Regions from separate parts of the Homo sapiens genome. Here region 1 is linked to region 2. Evidence: fine-mapped QTL for protein levels in blood plasma. Region 2 holds a variant in brackets. A gene starts in the other region. All regions are shown on their reverse strands.

Region 1 (8,000 bases), not on the chromosome of region 2:
GGGGAGGGGCTGCCCTGAGTGAGGCCCAGCTCCCAGGCTCCTCGGGCACCCAGGTCTCCTGCCTGTTTACCAGTCCAGGCAGTCTCTCAGCCTGGGGGAGGCCAGTGGCTCTCTGAATGGCCTGGCTGGAGCCTCCTGCCCAAGCCAGGCTCCCTGGAGTCAAGGACAGCTCCCAAGTCAGTGGTGAGCAAGTCCCCAGGGGAGAGAGGACAGCCAGGACAGCAAAACCCAGGGTGACGAGGCCTGGGAGGGTCGGGGGAGATGGCCCAGAACAAGGGGGCCTGGGAGGGTGGCCAGAGGTGTCAGGCCAGTGAGACTGAGAAATGGATACTCAGGCCTGGGCCTGAAATCCTTGTCTGGGCAGACCCGGGCTAAACTGCCAGGAAAGAGCACTTGCGGCCTGGGTCCCTGGGAGTCCCATAGACCCTGGGGTGGGGCACAGTCTTCCTGGGCCCAGAGTGGCTTCCAAGGAGCTCCTGGACCATCCACTGCTCCAGTGACTGAAGCTGAGGACGGAGTCCCTCCTCTCCCTGATCCCTGGTAGGGAAGCATCCTGCCTGAACAGTCCCCATGTCCCCGTCCCCTCATCCAGACTGGCCATTACCGATTGGGACAGGGAAGACGATGTGGTTTTCAGGGAGGCCCAGAGATTTGGAGAAGCGGATGAAGTTCTCCTTTAGTTCCGAAGTCAGCTCCTTGGTTCTCCCTGTGACCAAGATGGCCAGTGAGTGGCTGGCAGACACCACATAAATATCGTTGAATGAGTAGATGAGGCCTCAGATCCCTTCCTCATGGGGGACCGGCCTCCCCTCCCACTAAGTGTGATCAGGAGCCAGTCCCCGAGGGGATGGGAGAGGACCCACCGTAGAGGGTGATCTTGAAGTACTCCCTGTTTTGAGAAACTTTCTTGAAGAACACCATAGCATGCTGGTTGTAGTTGGTGCTCACCACTCGGACGAGGTAACTCGTTAATCCAGGGTAACCTGCAGGCGTGGACGGTGAGGGGTCAGCCCTGCCCTGGATGGGAGGAGGGAGCTGTCCCCTCCCTCCCCAGCCCATCAACGTGGGCTTCTCCCCATACAACACATCTGTGTGGAGGGGCAGGAAGGTCTGTGCCCCTACCCAGCTCCCCGGAGCCCCAACTCAGTGCCCCACCTCACTCAAGACTCACTCTTAATGTTGCCCAGCGTGAACTCGCCGGGCTGGCAACCTGGAACAAAAGTCCTGATCCAGTAGTCACACTTCTTTTTCCTTGGGAGGGAGAGATGGGTGGGTGAGAGGGGAGACAACCCAGGCTTGGGCCTCCTGTGCTGGACAAGGTGGGGCCAGGGCAGCAGCAGGGTTCTGTTGCTCTCAGTCCGGCCCAACCCGTGACAGCTCATCCCCCACTACCTGGAGGGGCCCTACCCCACCCAGCCGAGATGGGCCTGGGCCTTCTCCCTGAGCTGACACCAGGCTGTCCCTCCTGGCCTGCCTGGGGCCCCTGGACCCCACTCAGACCCTCCAGCACCCGATGTCCTTCTTTCCTTTGGCTGCCTCCCTGGGTGGCTTTCACCCCCCCCGCCACCCAACACACAGAAACCCTGCATTTCTCCCCTGCACTCAGCTTGCTGCTTCCCTTCCTATACCCTCTCCCGGGGATCCACCTCGGTACTTCCAGTCTGCTCCATGCCAGCCGTTCCCCTAGCTCTCGGGTCAAACCTGACCCCATCCTTGAGTCCTCCCACTTCCCATCCCCTGGCACCCCAGGGCTGAGCTCCCCAACCTGTCTGTATTCTGCTCCTTGCTCCACAAATGCCCCAATCCCAATCCACTCAGCTGCCAGAGTCAGAAACCCACTGGGGGCGGCTGATCCCTGGCTCCCTGCCTCTTCACCCTGCGCCTGTTCTCTCACACCTGTGACGGCCCCGCTTCACTTTCGCTGGTCTCCCGACCCCCTAGGCTGCACCCCACCAAGTCTCCCCACCCTGCGGCCCAAGAGCCCTGCTCTAAGCCACTCCGCAGCAGATCCGCTGGGGCGGGGCCTGAGGACCGTGCTAGGTGCTAGCGTGGCCACCTGCCCCTCCAGGCTGCTCAGCAGCTCTGCTCAGGGTGACCCTGCGATGGCTTGCTCCTTCCTGAAGGGGGGGCTCTCTCTGACTCCAGCCCCTGCCGGGAACACCCCACATTTCCTTTTGAAGCAGGTTGGCTCTTTTAAGGCCACCTCCCTGGAAGCCTTCCATGAAGGCACTGGGTGGGGTTCCAGGCTGGATCCAGTGTCCCCTCCTCCCGCTCCCAGGCACCCCTCCTCTCTCCGTCTTGTTTTCTAACGACTGTGCATGTCCATCCCCACCACTGTCTGTGTGTCTGCATGGAAATGTGCTATAAACGTTGCTCTAAGGAACAGAGGAAGGATGAACACAGATGAATTCCGGGCAGAACAGCGAGGTGAACGACAGGATCCCTCAGCTTTGGCCATCCCTTGCCTGTGACGTCAGTCTGACTCTCACACCCCCAGGAGATGTCGGCCCTCACCTAAACAGGACGGAGGTGACATTGTAGCTCTTGTCTTCTTTCAGCTCATAGATGGTGGCATACATCTTTTGCGGGTCTTTGTCTTCTCTGAGAATTGCATTCCCTGCCAGGCCTACCACATACCACTTCCCCTGGAACTGCAAGGGACTGATAAGAGGCACAACCCAGGAATGGCCCTAGGAGCCACCCCTCCAGCTCTGTCCCTGTGGCACCTCTGGGCCGCCCAGCTTGGAACCATGAGCCCCTCTAGCTGGGCAGCAGGGCCCAGGCTGGGCCTGCACTGGTGAAGGGGCAGGAGCAGGAGGCCATCAGTCCAGAAGGGAGTCCTGGGGGAAGAGGCGGTTCTGAGTCTGGCAGGGAGGAGGGTGACCTCCTCACTGGAGGAGGCATGTGGCTGGTGGGCCTTCCTGAGCCTCAGTTTCCTCATCTGTGCAGGGGGACTAAAAGTGCTCCCACCTTCTTTGGACAATGGGGGTTATGGGAGAGGGGATGTGGACCTGGGGGAGTCTGTTCAGGCTGAGAGGGGGTGGGGATGGGGGGAAGGGGCATGGTTTCCACCAGGGGACCCTGGTGGCACAGAGTGAGCTGAAACCTGGACCCTGGACTCCTAGAGTCCTGCCCAACGCTCTTCCTGAGTCTCTTCACCTCTCCTCCCCTCTGCTCCCACTCTTCCCCAGGCCCTGCCTGCAGGTGCCCCTCTTGGCCCCTTACTTGGTTGTCCTGGAAGTTCTGCTGCAGAGGGACCTTGCTCAGAGGTGGGGCTGGGATCAGGTCTGAGGTGGAGTCCTGGGCCTGGGCATGCAGAGCCCCCAACAGGGCTAGGCCCAGCCACAGGAGACCTAGGGGCATGATTTCAGGGCCGAGGAAGCAGGCGCTGTGGTGGCTGCTGGGCCTGGCAGGGGTGGAAGAGGAGGTGGCGAGTGAGAGGCTCACCTGGGTGGCCCTATTTATGGGATCTAGGGTGGGTTGATTCATTCTTTGCCAAGGCCAGGAATGTGAGGCAATTGCCAGCAACTCCTGCGGAAACACTTGGCAAGATTTCTGCACCTGGTCAGGATTGGGCAAGACAGAGGGACGGGGAGAGTGAGGGACATTCCCGGAGTGCTGCACCTCTGGCAGGGACAACGACTCCCTCTGTGCCTTCCTTGTGCTGTTTCTTTCTTCTGATTGCCCTGTATGTGGGCCGGTGGCCTGTGAGCCGGAAGAGCTGTCATCTCTGACCCCCCTGCTCAGCTGGATCCCAGGGTGGGGTATGTGCCCTGTGGTCCCCTCCCCACACCCACAGAAAGGAAAGAATGAATGCCTCCTTCCAACAGATCATGTGCTGTTTCCTGGTTCTTTTAAGGGTCAGGGAAGGGTGGGGTGGCTGACAGTGGACAAGGAAAAACAAGGCGTCTGCTCTGAACTCATGGAGCCCAGAATCATGGCCCTCCCAGGAGCCCCAGTCCAGGACCTGCATGTGCTCCAGGGGCCTTGAGACAGCCCCTTGCCCCTCTCCTTGCCCCATTTGCAGGAGGGGACCCCAGTGGACCCCTGAGGGACCCTTCCTCTCCTGTGAGTGCAGTGGGAAGAGACCCCACACAGGGCACATGGGTTGAGTGCTGAGGCTACAGTCCCTGTCCTGGGTGAGTTGGGCTGATGTGTGGGGGCGTGAAGGCGCCACACTGCTGCTCTGGACACCTGTTGCTTTGGGTCACTGACAGTGCAAGGATCTGGCCTTATCCTTGAGGTCACTGAGACCATCCCCCTGACTCTAGTCACAGCCTTTTTCCATTGAACCCAGCAGCCCAGGCCAGGGGTTCTGGAACTGTCACCGAGATGGCTGGTCCCAGCCTTGTCCAGCAGGGAAGCAGTTATCTCAACGGGGGCCTGGCTGGCATCCTCGGGAGGCAGCGATGGATCGTAGGCCCTGTGCAGTGTCCGCAGAGATGGCTCACCCATGAGGGCTGAGGCCGTCCTGGATGCCTGACCTGAGGCTGGACTGAGGGTTCGCTGGTTTTAGAGCTTTCAATGGGACTAACGGGGACCTCACTGGCTCTGCCTACGTGCTGCTTGGGATCCCCAATCTGGGCTTGGGGGCAGCAGGGCCTCAGGGAAGGGGCTCTGGGAGTCCTGAGCTGGGGTTAGTCTAGAGAGGCACCCACTGGATCCCTGCCCCCTCAGGCCCTGTCCTGCCTGCCCGATTGGATGATGAAAGGGCAGGAAGCAAAGATGAGTAAAACTGCAGGGGAACGATGTTGCACCAAAGCCTTCCCTTTCTAGAGGTAGCCAGTGGCTACTCGCTCCCTCCGAACCCCCTCTTCCCCTCATGACCCTGTTCCCAGGAACTCCACCTCTGCTACTGTCTTTGACCTTAAAAAGTATCCTCTGCCAGGCCGGGTGCGGTGGCTCACATCTGTAATCCCAGCATTTGGGAGGCTGAGGCGGGTGGATCACGAGGTCAGGAGTTCGAGACCAGTCTGGCCAACACGGTGAAACCCCATCTCTACTAAAAATACAAAAATTAGCAGGGCATGGTGGCAGGCGCCTGTAATCCCAGCTACTCGGGAGGCTGAGGCAGAAGAACAGCTTGAACCTGGGAGGCGGAGGTTGCAGTGAGCCGAGATCACGCCTTTGCACTTTAGCCTGGAACAGAGCGATATTCTGTCTTAAAAAAAAAAAAAAAAAGGTATCCTCGGCTGGGCGCAGTGGCTCTCGCCTGTAACTCCAGCACTTTGGGAGACTGAGGCGGGTGGATAACCTGAGGTCAGGTGTTCAAGACCAGCCTGACCAACATGGTGAAACCCTGTCTCTAGTAAAAATACAAAGATTAGTTGGGCATGGTGGCGCATGCCTGTAATCCCAACTACTCGGGAAGCTGAGGCAGAAGAATTGCTTGAACCTGGGAGGCGGAGGTTGCAGTGAGCCAAGGTTGCGCCATTGCACTCCAGCCTGGGCGACAGAGGGAGACTCCATCTCGGGGAAAAAAAAAATGTATCCTCAGGGACTAGCCTGGCCAATATGGCAAAACCCCGTCTCTACTAAAAATACAAAAATTAGCCAGGTGGGGTGATGCATGCCTATGATCCCAACTACTCAGGAGGCTGAGGCAGGAGAATGGCTTGAACCCGGGAGGCGGAGGCTGCAGTGAGCCAAGATCGCACCACTGCACTCCAGCCTGGGAGACAGAGTGAGACCCTGTCTGAAAAAAGAAAAAAAAAACCACGTATCCTCGGGGAGGCTGAGGTGGGAGGATCACTTGGGCCCAGGAAGCCGAGGCTGCAGTGAGCTATGATTGTGCCACTGCACTCCAGCCTGGATGATAGAGTGACCTAAATCTAAAAAGTACCCTCTAGTCTACGGTGACTGCTTCACGTAGCTGAGACCAGCGGGTGGAGCCCCAGAGAATTTGAAGTTGGGGGTGAGGCAGTGTCATGGATCTCTGAGGACCCAGGACTCCAGGGTATGAATGTGGTGGGTGAGCAGGGCACTGGGTCCACAGTGGGAAGACACCAGAGCCAGGTGCAGAAGGGGAGATAGTCCCGCTTGGGGGTCCCCCAGGCTGGCTTGAAGCCTGGCTCCTCCGCATGCATGCAGATCTCTGCCTAGCTCCCACACAAATCAGGCGCTCCTCTGTAGAGAGGGCAGCTCTGCGCTTCTGTGAGGTCATGCATGGACAGCACCGGGCCCCAGGGTGTCCCTACACAAGGCTGAGTTTCTGATCAAACCCATGCAGGGCTCATTCCTCTCTCTGCACCAGCTCCAGACCTGTCTCCTACCCACTGGCCTTGGCTCTCTTCAGAGTCTAGCAGGGCTGCAGGGAGGGGGTCAGCTCTACATAGACCCACCACACAAGCTTCAGGACTCAGCACTAGGAAGGTTGGGTAAGGACTGTGGTGTAGACCTCCCATTCAGACTTGACCGACTCCAAGGGCTCCAGGGTCAACAGGACACTGGGGCCCCATTCCTCACCCACCCCCTTTCCACTGGGCCCCATTCATTGGGCCCTAGCCAATGAGGGTACACAAGTGTTCACACTGCTCAGCGCTTGGGGGAGTCCCTGGACCCCGGGGCTCTTGGGACAATCTCCACGACACGTGTGGCACTGTGCATGGCATGACAGGCACCCACCTGCCTCCCCTCGGCCCCTCCTATGGTTTCCACCGTGGCCCCTGGACTGGGCCTGCTTTCTCTCAAGGAGCTGCAGGTGCCTCTAGTGAGCCCTCAACGAGCCACACAGAAGCAATGGGGCCAAGCCCCTCCTGAGAGGAGCTGGGCTGGGCTCCCAAGTCCTGCTGTGCAGGTCGGCTTAGCAACAGCAGGAGCTTAAAGACAGGTCCCTGCCTGGGTTTTCCGTGGCCAGAGACCAGAAGTACTCCGGCTGCTCCCGACCTCCCCTCGCAGTCTCTGGCAGGCAGCTGTCCCCACTCTCCACGCCCAAGAGTGGGTGCTCCCTGGAGACTGCAGCAGCCTGTCCTCCCATGGAGAGGCCCAGGTCTCATCCATGCATGAAGGCAGCAAGATGCTTCCTGGCGGTCCTTACATCTCAGGAATCCAGTCTGACTCCCCATTCTGGTTTCCGGATCTTGTGAGTAGTGTTCAGCGTGGCCATGAATGGTTAACCCTCTGACGTGTTTGAAGGCTGGGCAGGAGGTGACTGGCTAGGCTTCTAGGAGCCAGGTACCACACCTGGAAGGAGTCTACAGTCAAGATGCCCCCAGGAGGCCCAGTCACAGATGCAGGAAGTCTTGGTGTCTGCAGATCAGCTCTCCTTGGTCACGGCAGGTCCGGGCTGGGCACCCGACTCTCAAACACCCAGGAACGGGAGGGGCTGTTTAGTGTGAGGAGCTTGCCCTGCCAGGGTCTTGGGCTGAGTCTCCTGTTTCCAGAAACAGTTTTCCAACCCCCATCCTCTCTCATGCCAAGGCTCGCCAAGGGGCCTTGAGGTCCTCCTGCCCCTTCTACCTGACAGGGACCCTGCCCGCCTGTGAAAATCCCCTCCCAACCCTCCCCCAAGTACACCCACTGGATTCCTCCCTCTGGTGAACCCCTGGGGTCCACCAGACAGGGGGAAGCGGGCCCTGCTGCTTGAGGTCTAGGCCCAGGGCCCTTGCTGGTTCCATCCCTTGGTGCCTGGCCCAGGCATGCTGCTTAGATGGGTGCTCTGCCTTTTACTCCAGAGCCTGGACTCCTATGCGGGCAAGAGGGCCCACAATGATCATAGGTGGCAGCGGAGTGGACGTCAAGGCTCTGAGCAGGGTCTAGGGTGGACACAGGCAGCGGCAGGCAGTGGTGGATGCCAGGCTCCCATGGAGCTGGGCCGCAGTCCCTCTGTCATAGGCCTCTGTCCCACATGGTCCTGGTGCTGCTCAAAACCAATGCTCCTCCCAGCTCTGCACCCCTCCTGCCCGGACTGCAGCCCCCAGCACCCCAGGAAAGGGGCATCTCCACTGCGGCCACCCCTGCGTTACCCCACATGCTCCCGTGCTCCCTGCTCTCCAGGTCCT
Region 2 (12,866 bases):
AAATAAATAAATAGACAAGCAAATAAAAATATATTGTATGGCTGGCCATCATGGCATGTGCCTGTAGTTCCAGTACTCAGGAGGCTGGGGCGAGAGGATTGCTTGAGTCCAAGAGTTTGAGGCCGTAGTGTGCTATGATTACACTTGTGAATAGCTATTGCATTCCAGCCTGGGCAACATAGAAAGATCCTGTCTTTAAACACATATATATATACACACACATATATATATGTCTTTAAACATATATATATGTATATATATGATATATACATATATATGTGTATATATGATATAATATAATATGATATGACATGGTGTGATCATATTGATACAATAGTAGTTAATGATAAGTTATATGAAGAAAACTAAAGTAGAGAAGTAGAGTTGGGGTGGAAAGGGAAGGAAGGTGATGTTGGTTTCGATGGGGTGGTCAGGGTATACATTTGAGCAGAAATCTGAAAGAAATGAAGAAGAGTGACTTGCAGCTATCTAGAGGCCAAGAGTTCCTGGCAGTGAGTAGCCAAGGCTCTTGGTGGGCACATACCTGACCTGCTCAAAGAGTAGCACAGAAGCCAGTATACCTGGAGTACAGTGACTGAAATGGGGAGTGGTGGGGAATATGAGCCTGTAGGTATCAGGAAGCAGATAACAGCAGCTTATAGACCATGGGGAGGACTTTAGACTTTATTCTAAATGTGCTAAGGAGACACTGGGGGGTTTTGACCAGGGGAGCGAAATGATTCTATTTATGCTTTGAAGGATTACTTTGGCTGCTTTCGTGGAGAACAGATTATAGAGCACAGGCAAGCATGGAAGCTAAGAGATCAGCTAAGAAGAGATTCCCCAGGGCAATCCTGTCTAAGAGAAATATAATATGTATAACTTAAACTTTACTAGAAACCATATTTAAAAAAGTAAAAATAAAGGGGAATTAATTTTAATAACATTTGGTTAACCTAATAGATCTAAAATATTATTACTTCAGCTATATAAAATTATTGTTGAGATAGTTTACATTCTTTTCTTTCATTTTAAGACTTTGAAATCCAAAGATTCACATATGACCATGTTTCAAGTGCTCAGTAGTCATGTATAGATCATGGCAACCATACTGGACCCCGAAGCCCTAGATCGTTTCAGAGATGGAATGAGGCTGGACTAGGGTGGTGGTAATGGTGGTGACAAGGGGTGGTCAGATTATCAATACATTTTGAAGGTGGAAATTGAAAAATCAAGGATTACTCCAAAAGTTTTCCCCTAAGACACTGGTCTGGATGCTAGGGATACAGAGATGAAAGAAGAAGTCCTTGGCTTAAATGTTCATCTCTGATTGCGGAAGGCCTGAATCGGGAGGAATCCCTATGCCATGTCATATATGTTTTGGCAGAAGTAAGTATACGATGTTGTGGGAGAATAGAGAGTGACCCAGCTTTGGGGGTGCACTGGGGCCAGTTAGGCTACCTGAAAGAGTGGACACATGGTCATAAAATTTGGGGCAGAACTTTGAAAGGGGGGAAATGATATAGAATTTGCATGTCTGTGGGCATGGGATAGTGAGAAACACTCTCTTTAGTTTTCTTAAAGAAGGAAAGGGATGGAAAGGAGTTGGGAAGAACAAGGAGCAAGTGACCAGGGAGAAGAGTATTATGCCCTGTCCAACATAGGGTCAGGGGAGACTTCCCTGACTAGACTCTCCACACTAGTCCAGGCCAGGTTCTTTGTTTAACAGTACCGTAGGACCATGCTGCTCTCCTTTGGTGCTCTTGTCTTCTTTTGTGATTCTGGATCCATGGCCATGATTATTTGTTTAATATTCATCTTCTCTGATGGACTAGGTTGTTAAAGAGCAGGTGCTGAATCACTGTGAATCACTAGCACAAGCACAGTGCCTGGAAAGAGGTGGTTGTTTGCTATGAGTTGAATATTTGTGTTCCTGTTGAGATTCATGTTGAAACTTAATCCCCAATGTGAGTATTAAGAGGTTGGGGTTTAGGAGGTGATTAGGCCATGATGCCTCCACCCTTTTGAATGGGTTGATGCATTATGAAAGGGCTTGAGGAGGCAAGTTTTCCCCTTTTAAACCTTCCACCATGTGAGGACACAGTGCTCCTCCTCTCTGGAGGAAGCAGCAACAAGGCGCCATTTTGGAAGCAGAGAGCAGCCCTCACCAGGCACCTGAACCTGCCAGCACCTTGATCTTGGACTTCTCAGCCTCCAGAACTGTGGGAAATAAATTTGTGTTGTTTATAAATTATCCATTCTATATTTTGTTATAGTAGCATGAGGACACTAGGACAATGTTTGATAAACATTTCTTAAATGAATAAATGTGTGGAAATTGATAAGTCTGTTGGCTTGACTCTCTATAACTGGCCCCAGGGAAAATATGAAGAAGCATGGCCTCAGGGACAGCTGTTGGGCCCTGGTGAAAAGTGCAATTCAATCTGATCAGCGGAAGTCACTGGAAACCTCCCTGTCCTCCAACCCCTGACTCCTCCAACCAACCACTAAAGTTAGGTCTGGCACTGATGGGGAGCATGAAATCAGAAGTCAGCCCCAGTCCCTGTTTAGTGGGAACATCAAGATACACACAGAAGAGGCAGCAGGGGCAGAGCCTTGGGCTCTGGTAGACCCTCCCGTGGCTGCTCCCTCTGTAGCGGGATATTTTAAAAAATAAGAGAGACCAATGGGGTTGAGGAGGATATTTATTAATTATTTAGGTGAACCGGTCCAGTTGGATTAACATTCAAAGGACTGAGCCCTGAACTATGAAATCAGCAGAAGTCACTGGAAAGTCATTTCCACCTTCAAAATGTATTGATAATCTGACCACCCCTTGTCACCACCATTATCACCACCCTAGTCCAGCCCCATTCCATTTCTGAAATGATCTAGGGCTTCAGGGTCCAATATGGTTGCCACGATCTATACATGACTACTGAGGACTTGAAACATGGTCATATGTGTGAGATGTACTAGAACTGTAATACACTGGATTTCAATTAATTGAGACATGCGTTACATCATTTCTTACTTTTCAAGGAAAAACACGTTTTATGACTTGAGTTTATTTGTCTAGTGACCTTGCAGCTGCATAGCTAGAGAAACAGGTCTTCATAATGCCTGGGAAAGGAGGAAAGATAAGGCTCACTAGCTACAGAAAAACAGGCAGTTAATTTTTAAAGGACTCCAGCTCTTTCTCCTTCTCAGGGGGAATTGGGTTTTCTTACATACAACTGAGTTTCTGCTTACACATTCTTTAATTTCTTTTAATTCCTGTTCCACCTCTGGATCTTCTTCAGCAGCAGGGGCAGGCCAGGTGGCAAAATTGAAGAATTTTAGAAAGGTTAGATACCCTGCTGGAGGTCAGGCAAGACAGATGTGAGGAAAAGTGGGAAAGGGGGCTTTTTACTGCAGGAGAGTGGGTTTGACTTTCGGCTTATTTACTGTGAAGCCATGTGGAGACAGTGTATGGGAAGCTGGGATTCAGGACAAGTGACAAATGATGAGTCCTGGGCACATGGTCTTGGGGTGAAGCTTTGCTGACCACCCCCATCAAAGGAAACAATTGCAGTTGTGTGGAAAGTGTGCGAGAAAGTAGAAGCCTGTAGATGGGGTTGAGGGGAGAGCCTGAAGATGGGGGTGAAGTGGGATTGGCAGAAAAGGAAGGAATGTGTGACCCAGGGAAGGGAGTCCTGGAATGGCCCAAGCCTGGAAGGCTTCTATCACCAAATGTGAATGAGAATGTGAGAGCATTTGGGGAAAGCCTTCCCTCACTGCATGACCTTGGCCAAATCACTTTGCCTCTCTGGGTCTGTGTTTTCTTTATTTTTGAAGAATTCAAAGGAATTTTAAACATCTATTTTGGAAAGTTTTAGACTAGGTGAATACTCAGGTGTCACCCAGTGTTAGTGCTCTGAGAGACCTCAGTTGGATAGAGGGGAACTTGGTGCAGGGTCTAGAAGGAGAACATCACTTAGTGAGAGGGTAGGAAGGAGGATGTCCCTTGGTGCTAAAGAGTAGCAGTCGAGAGTGTGAGGCTAGAAGTTATGCTTCTGTATTCAAATCCTAGCATTGCCACTTACTAACTGTGAGACCTTGAACAAGTTACTTAGAATCTTTAAACCTCAATTTCCCCATCAGTAGCATGGGGATAACCACAGCACCCCTCTCCCAGAGTTGGTGAGAGGATTAGGTCATCTCCTTTTTTTCCTTTTTTTATTTTTTTATTTTTTGAGATGGAGTCTTGCTCTGTCTCCCAGGCTGGAGTGCAGTGGCGCGATCTTGGCTCACTGCAAGCTCCGCCTCCCGGATTCACGCCATTCTCCTGTCTCAGCCTCCCGAGTAGATGGGTTTACAGGTGCCCGCCACCACACCAGGCTAATTTTTTTGTATTTTTAGTAGAGACGGGGTTTCACCGCGTTAGCCAGGATGGTCTCGATCTCCTGACCTCGTGATCTGCCTGCCTCGGCCTCCCAAAGTGCTGGGATTACAAGCGTAAGCCATGCGACTGGCCAAGATTAGGTCATCTCATAGCACATGGAAAGCACTTGGCACAGTATCTGATGCAGAGTAAGCACTCAACAAACATTAGCAATAACAGTAAGATAATAATTTAGACAGGAGGTAACGATTGTAGCTGACCCACCCTCTGCCACAGCACAATAGGTATAGATTATTTTAAACCAAAGCAGACTGAGGTTATATTTAGGGGTGGCTTGGATAGTTAAAGTTGACCAGTGTAAGATAAGGAACCAAGGGAAGTTATGCAATATCTTCCTCTAAAGGCCTTTGAACTAGACCAAGCTGTTCTGCAAACTAGGCCACTCCCTTGATGCACTTACCTTGATTTGGGACCACTTCTGATATATATAGTAGTATTAGAATCTGTTAAAAAAAAAAACAACAAAAAAACCAACAACTAACCGATGAGAGCAAAAGTCCAGCACATTTGCTATTGTGAAAACATTCACCAGCTGTAATTTTGTTTCCAAATAGCCCACTGAACCACAAATTGAACTTAAATCATGGCTAGAAAAATTTTAAGGGCTGCTAACCTTGGTCAAAATCCATCAGTCAGCGGCACCTAAGGACAATGACAAGGGCCCTTGACTTGGAATCAAATGAGCTTGGTTAGACTCCCAGCTCAACTGCTTGGCTCTGTGAGTTTGGGCGAATGGCTTCCCTTCTCTGAGCCTCAGTTTTTTCATGTATATAGTGTGCTGTTTGCACAAGTGATCTCCAGTCCCTTCATGAATACACAGAGACTAGACCCTGTGACTGTGGCTGGTGTCGTGGAACAAGCAAATGAACACAAGCACTGTTAGATCCACAGAGCCCAGGGATTGGCCCTGTTGCTTCTGGAGGCCCTGTCTCACTGTCACCATCTGTCCACCCCCAGAGGCCCTATTCTCCAGCCACTCTAGAACAGTCTCTAGTTTCTCCACGGCTTTGAAACTTCTTGGGTTTTGCTCCTGCTGTCCTCTTGTTCTCTTTGTCTGAAGTGCCTTTTCATCCCTTCATTCACAAACATTTTTTTGTGTCTGCTCTGTTGCAGACACTAGGCTACCTGGGCCCTTCTCTGGCTCTAGAACACCTGCTTATACACCATGGCCTGACTCAACCGTCACATCCTCCAGGGAGCTCACCTGTTCATATCTTCCTCATGTATTTCCATCAAGAGTAGACTTTAGGCCCCTTCCAATTTGGGGCTGACCTCCCTCTTCTGCTCACTGGCTGCTGCTGGAATGATGAGCCTGACAAAGCTGTCTGGGCAAAGGCATTACTGAGTGATAAAGGACACCAATAACACTCTTTTGGGTGCTATATGTGCAATACTTTGCCCTCAGGAGGATATTTCAGGCAGGCTTCCAGTACACCACAAGCCAAGCCATGCCAGCCTGTGCATCAGGCTCTTGGAGCTCAGGAGAAGGATCTGGGCTCAACAAAATGACTATCAGAAGCCCCTGATGTGAGAATGGCTAGGTCTCATCATTTTGACTTGGCCAACACAAGAAGCCTTTCAAGTTTTAAGATAAAGCAAACTAAAAATCTGGAGGGCAAGAGCCCTTACTTCCTATGTTTCTCTGATTTCTTTTATTGCCTAACACAGCACTGGGCACATGGAAGTGCAATTCTTGCCCTCTGAAAACTCAGCTTGGGCATTAGTCCAAGCAAGCTTTCCTTCTCTCTCCTTCCCTCTACCCCTGCCCCCCGGCTCCCCTCTACCCCCTCCCCCACACCACAGCCAATAAGACGGCAAAAAGTGCCTTCTGTACTCTCTGGGCATCTTGTGCTTATCATCTGCCTTTGCTTGTCTTTTGCCCACAACATTGTATTATAGAGAAAATATCTGGTAATTGTGCCCCCACTGGACTGAGGGCTCTGTGAAGGCAGGGAATCTAGCACACTATTTGACATAAGACCAGGCTCATCAGCCTCCTAACTGGTCCTCATGCTTCTACTCTGGGGTTCTCCAGGCTACCCTCCACACAGCTGCCGAATATTCTCCTCCAGATACATCATATCACATCACCTGCCTGATTAAAACCCTCCAAAGGCTCTCCAATGTGTTTGGGGTGAAATCTTCGTTGAGATGGCTTCTTGTCATCCAGGCCTCATTTCCAGTGTTGCTTCCTTGCCTGGCTGCCGGCCCACAAAGCAGTCCTGTTAGCATGTCCCCTTTATTTTCTTTGTGCAACTCATCACCATCTAAAATGATCTGGGCTATCTATTTCTTGACTTGCCTCTTGTCTGACTCTCCCCTAGACGCAGTTTTGTTGACCCAGCACCTATAACAGTGCTCTGCATTTAGTTCTCACTCAATGAGTATTTGCAGACTGAATAGCTGATGAATGTTGGCTTCTTTGCATGGAGCTGTTTCCTACCAGAGGGAATGAACACCTGGAGTAGAATGCGAGGGCGATGCTTGAGGCAGTGCTGGGAGAGTGGGAGGGCCTGGCAGCAAATGAGCCACACCACAGCGGGTTTGGAGGCCTTGCCCCCGGGGGTGGGCTCCTCTCCCTGGACCCTGGTGATATTTGAAGGCAGCTGTCATGGCTCCCTTGCTTACCTTTTCCAGACTTGATTCCCCAAGACCTTCAACAATTTTCCCTTGTGATTGTCTCCTTTCATTATGAGGAGTAGACTCGAAACTGGGACATCTTGTGTTTTGAGGGAGCCATTTCTGGTTAGATATGACCCGTAGTTACTTCACAAAGGTTAGATATGACCCCTAGTTGCTTCCCTGAAAGCACTCAGCCACATAGAACTGCATTTTACCACAGAGGACAGGAGGGCAGAAGGCAGTAAGTGAGAAAAAGCTCAGGGAGAGGATGTAGAAAAGGTAAAGAGAGAAAGAGAGGGGGCAAATCAAGAGGGAAAAGGTTGGGGGAGAGGCAGGGGAGAGGAGGGAGGATCAGACTCCAAGTCAAGGCGGGGGATGCTGAAGGTGCGGGCTGCATGCTGGAATCCTGCTGCCCCTGCCGCCCCTGCTGGTGGCCACCCTCCTCTTCCTCTTCACCTCGGGTCTTGGCAACAAACCCCTTCCTCACTGTACAGTCTGCATGCAGCAATTTTGGGTACGTGGGCAAGAGTGGGAGAACTCATGCAGAAAAGGAAAGCCTAGATGTAGTTGTTTTGAGCCAGCACCAATAGCGGTGCTCTGTGTTTAGTTGGGACTCTGCATTCCGTGGGACACTCAGGATGGAGGCCAGCTGGCTGTCGCTCAGGGGCTCCCTTTCCCTGTCTCCTGTGTCTGGGAGTGGATCTCTGAAGACAGGGGTGATCTAATCATCCAGGGACTGATTGTCGTCTTAGGATAGAGAAACTGTTTCAGGTCAGAGCCCCAAGGGGCAATAGGACTTGAGAAACCAGTTGTTTCAGTCCTGCTGTCACTTTGGTAATTGGAGTGTCAAAATCCATGACACGGGGCTTTCTAAAATATATGTTTTAAGCAACTGC[C/T]GGAAGAGGGGGCAGTGCATTGGGGTTGGATTATGGAGCTTACTTCAGGGCAGGGCTGCATCAGGGTTGTGTAAGGTTGGCTCACCGGGCTGGTGAAAGCTGAGATCTTCCTTCCTGGAAAGGTCTTGGCAAACAGCATGAAATGATCTTATTTATCATGTTGCAGTCACACCTCTCCTAATTGAGGTGAAGCTTGGGGTAGTTTGAGGCTCTAGCTTTACTTTTTCTGAGAAGCACCGCTTGGACTCTTAAGTGCTCACCTGGGCTCTTGCAACAGACTCCCCACAGGCCATGTGCCTGGGGTCTCATTCCCACCCCAAACCCATCCCATAAAACACAGATAGAGAAACTTCTATGAAATGCAAATGTGATTATATCATTGCCCTCCCTGAAGCCTTCGGGGCTCTGCCCCTGTTCTGCTGAATGGAGTGTGAGTTCCTTGGCCTGGTACCTATCCTGTTCTCATCTGTCTCTCTTACCTCTCCCTGCCACGCCCCCAGTGCTCCTCATTCGCCCTCAAACCCCACGCCTGCCCATTTCCAGGCCTTTGCATACATGGTCTCCTGAAGCACCTTCATGTTTATCCCGGGATGTCTCCAGGTACCAGCCTTGATGTCACACTGATACTTACCCCTCCATGGAGATGGCCCCAGTGAAGGGCATCATTCCCACCTCAAAGTCCCACCGAGCTACATCCCACCGAAATCTTTTAGCTGGACCTCCCTGGCCTCTCATTTTCCACATCAGATTAATTTGAGGAGCTGTCTTGTCTCCCTGCAGGCCCGAGAACTCTTTGACAACATGGACAAGCTTTATTTATCATGAAGGCCCCTCAGCATTATACTGTGCCTGACACATAGTAAGTCTGCAGTTAATGTCTGTTGAGTGAATGAAGGGACATACAAGTGAGTGGACAAGTGAATTCATTTCTCCCCCAAGTTCTGGAGCCATCCCACCACCACCCAGGCCCCAGACCACATTCAGAGCACTGTGAAGTGTCTGGGAAGAGTTTAGCAGCTTAGACTACTTCTGATCCTTCCTCATTCCTCCCAGGAAGGCATCTAGCAGTTCAGGTTCCACTGCTAACACCAGCCTGGAGGGCAACTCATTGTTGCAGGAATTGTTGGATAGTCATCTGAAGACAGGTTGTCTCTGATTCTTTAGTCACCATGGTGCTGGGAAAGTCCCCAAAGGTCATGTTTCCCCAAAGGACTCATTAATCACAGAGATAGCTACTGATTTCCACTTGGAGTGGGAATCTTAACCTTGACATGGACATGGACATGCTTGCTCTCTCTATCTGAGAAAAGAAGCCCACTCTGCTCTACTCAGCAGAATGAGGTTTTTTTTTTTTTTTTTTTTTTTGAAATGAAAGAGGCTAATGGGAATGAAGAGGTTAAGTCACCTTGATGAGTTCTGTTCAACTACGTTTAAAGAAAATTCCGCAGGGTGCAAGTGGCTTGTTGTCAGACCTTCCCCCAGGGTCTGAAACAATTGCCTACATGCAGACTGAGTTACTAGAGACAAGGTAAATGGAAGAATCCTTGTTACCTGAGGAGGTCTCTGGGTCATCCTGCCACTCAGCTGCTCTGCTCTCTGCCAGCCCCAGGTCTCCAGACAGCTGGCACCCCCAACCCCAGTTCCTGAGAGCCACTCCTACCTCACACCCACATTCGAGCAAAGCACCCATTTCTGCTCTAGAACCATCCTATCTTCACTTTGTGGATGAACAAGTGGATGGTCCATGCTGGGATCTTGAATGTGGGGGAAAATCAGCTATAGTCCCTGCTTTCAGGGGTTCATAGTCTTGGCAAATGAGTATTTGCCATTCAGTATTTGAAGTGCAATGGTGGAATTGTCAGAGTTCTGTGGGCCTGGAGGAGGAAGTCCCTATCTTCTTGAGAAGGGTGGATGGTGAGGAAGCAGTAACACTTGTTCCAAGGCTTGATGGATCCTAAGGGACTTACAAGAGACACCAGGATGGAGCACAGCATTTTTGGTGCAAAGGTGAAGAGGCTGGAGAAAGCCTGGATGTAATTTAGGGAAGGCGTTTTGAAGAAGTGGAGGAATAAACATGTGGATGGGAGGATGGATGATAAGGGGTTAGATTTGTTCTGTGTCCTCAAAGGGGAGGAAAAGTAGGACTAATGCTGGGTGGGCATGAGGAGATGGATTTCAGCTCAGTATAATGAGGGACATTCCAAGTGTCACTCCCAAAGGGGGAAACTCTCCTTTCCTGGAGGAATTCAGGCAGGGTTGGTTCAGTCACTTGGCAGGGATGTTGGCAAGAATCACTCTAGAGTGTGGGTGGGGCAGATTGGATTAAGTCCATAGTTTTCACACTTTTTTCAAGACAAATCTCTTCCTTCAAATCAAATTGGTCTGATTGAACAGGGGGTGGAGGGGCCCTCCGATTCCATCAACTTGCTGCTCCTTACCTTCAGGTTTGAGATTCTGTAATGCTAATGCAGAAGCCTTCCATTTGCAGGTTTTGATCTCCTCTTGCTTTTTTTTCTCCACATCATCCCTTGAGAAGAGAGCATAGAACACGTGAGAAACCTAGGCCATTATACAGGCAATATTTGCTGAGAACCTTCTATGTAGCAGCCACTACTCTAGGTGCTGAGAATAAATCAGAAAAAAAAAACAGATGGACTTTGCTCTCTTGGAGTTATCAGTCTGGAGGGGTAGGCAGAGTCATAAACATATTTAGGCACATTGTGATAAGTAGTGGTGGGCAGAGGGCCTAGGGGGAGCACTTACCACCCTACTGGAAGCATCTGGTCTAAGGCCCTCCAATCCCCAGGATGCTTCTCTCTCCTCATTACCAAGCTGTGTTCAGAAGGGAGTGAAGACAGTGACTCCTCCCTGGATGTGAGCATGGGAGCAGAAGGGCTGTCAGAAAATGAGTGTCCCCAGCTGTCAGGTCTCCAAGTCAGGCACAGAAGGGACTGAGGAGGGCTTCTAGACTCTGCTGCCTAAGCTCTCAGCCTGAGACAGTTCCTGGAAACATCCTCATACCCTCGAGTGGGAGCCCTTAAAACCCTGCACCCAGAGCGGAGCCCCCAGGCCCTTAAAGCAGGAGTCTGCAACAGGCAGGTTGGGGGCACAACCATAGCCAGGCTGTGAGGGGAGGGCTGAAATCCAACACTGGCAGCTCTATATCTTCCTGCTCTGCACTGGGGAAGGGGCTGGGGAGGTGCAGCCAGTGGGGCAGATATGATTCAAGCTACTTTTCGTACTGCATTATTTTGAGCAACTCTGTCATTTGTGTGACTTTGGACTAGTCTCTTCTCCATATTACACCTCGGTTTCTTCACTTATGAAAAGGGAGAGTAGGTGACTGCTAGTCTTCCCAGCTTCCCCAGATCCTAATTCTGTGAGTCTTCTTTCTGCTGAAAGGACAGGGGTCAGAGGACCTTGATCTGGACTCTGGTTTTTGGAAGGCCAAACCCCACTGGTTATAACCTAGGAAAGGGACTTTATAGCCAAAGGGCAGGAAGATGGCAGAGGAGTCCCTGAACTGAGCACTTGGATCTGGGGCAGCTTGAAGGGGGAGCTGCAGCAGTAGCCCTGAGGCAGCTAGGGCCAGGCCTGGTAGTAGGCTTTGCAGAGAGAAGCAGATACTTGTGCTGGGCCCAGCTCTCAGCTACCCACCAGAAAGGACAGCTGGCCCTCAAAGCTTAAAATCAGAATCTTCAGACCCCCAGGCTCTCTGGACCCAGAGCACAGACTCCTCCTGGTAGTCACGGAGTCTTTTAGCTGCAGAGCCCGGACTGGAGCTCATTTCTTCACTCTGCCATTCTGTTGAGACCAGGGTGGGCATAGGGCTAAGCTCTCAGACTCCCACTTGTGTGAGCACTCCCGTTGATTAGGGTGGCAGGTCTGTTAAGAGAGATCCAATTGCTCTCTTGGATCCAGAAAAAGTGTGAGAGTAAACACACCGGATCTGTCCTTGTTTCCACTGCCTGGGTGCCAGTATTCCTCCCCAGACATGGCACTATCTAGGTCCATTTCTGGAAGACTTTCAGAGGAATAGAATTCTGTTAGGAGAGAGAGAGGGCTGTGTAGACAGTGATGGGTGAAGACAGGCTTGGGGCTGGTTGGTGAGGTAGCAGGCATATCAAGGGGTAGAGATATGCCTTTTTGCTTTCTACAGTGTACAGTGACAAGGGCCATTTGTCAGGCTGGACAGGCTGGACAGGGTGTCTGAGATGGGGCAGGGAGCCTGGGATCTGAACAGTGGGGCCTGAAGTCAGAGGTGAGGACATGGTCAGGGAGGTGAGCCCAAGGGGCCCAGCACAGACCCATGTTTTGCTGCTTCTCATTTTGTTAATACTGAATGAGGGGGCTGAGTCACAGATAAGGACAGGGCTGTCTAATGCCCAGAGCCCTGGGAAGGCAGGGTTGGAGAAGAGGTGGAAGAAGCACACAGAGCACTGACTTGGAGGAAGAGACTTTATTTGGCCCCAGCCCCTAGCCCCACAGCCAAGACAGTTTGACATAACAGGCCCCGGGGCCCTGGTTGGGTAGAGGCAGGGTGGCCTGGCCTCCTGATTAGTGGCTGTGGCCGTGGCCACCATGACTGTGGCCGTGGCCGTGGCCACTGTGATCTTGGCCACTGTGGTCTTAGGGGGTGCCCTCCCCGAGGCCTGGCTTATGGTGGTGGCCAGGGCCCTCGTCACCCTCGTGCATCTTCTCGTGGGAGGCCCAGGTTAGCCTCGCCATCAGCATGATGAACTCCTCGAAGCTCAGCTGCTTGTCTGCATTTGTGTCCAGGTCCTCCATGATGTGTTCTATGACCTTTTCATTCTTATTCTCCTTCTGCGGGTGGGGAGAGAAGGCTGTGAGAGCTGGGTGTGGCCAGAGGTGGGGACTGGGAGCACAGTAAATGACCAGCTGGC

The links. PIP is the chance, under the fine-mapping model, that this variant and not a neighbour inherited with it causes the effect. Protein levels are from antibody-based Olink assays in UK Biobank. Linkage for the fine-mapping came from a reference panel and not from the study's own genotypes, which makes the PIPs less certain.
Region 1: it holds the start of LCN2, and the variant in region 2 is fine-mapped to the plasma level of the LCN2 protein (UK Biobank, PIP 0.97).

The regions. Positions count from the first base shown.
Region 1 is chr9:128,144,889-128,152,888 of GRCh38, reverse strand. LCN2 (lipocalin 2) reads right to left here and starts at 3,436. Exons shown (of 7, transcript NM_005564.5): 1 at 3,226-3,436; 2 at 2,515-2,651; 3 at 1,172-1,251; 4 at 864-983; 5 at 605-706. The coding sequence starts at 3,363. RefSeq lists a silencer at 2,037-2,086 and an enhancer at 6,216-6,715.
Region 2 is chr1:153,360,564-153,373,429 of GRCh38, reverse strand. It overlaps S100A9 (S100 calcium binding protein A9), which reads right to left. Exons shown (of 3, transcript NM_002965.4): 3 at 12,407-12,786. The coding sequence ends at 12,592. Among named protein-coding and RNA genes, the nearest start is that of S100A12, 8.6 kb to the left of the region's middle. The variant C/T (reference allele first, on the strand shown) is at 7,963.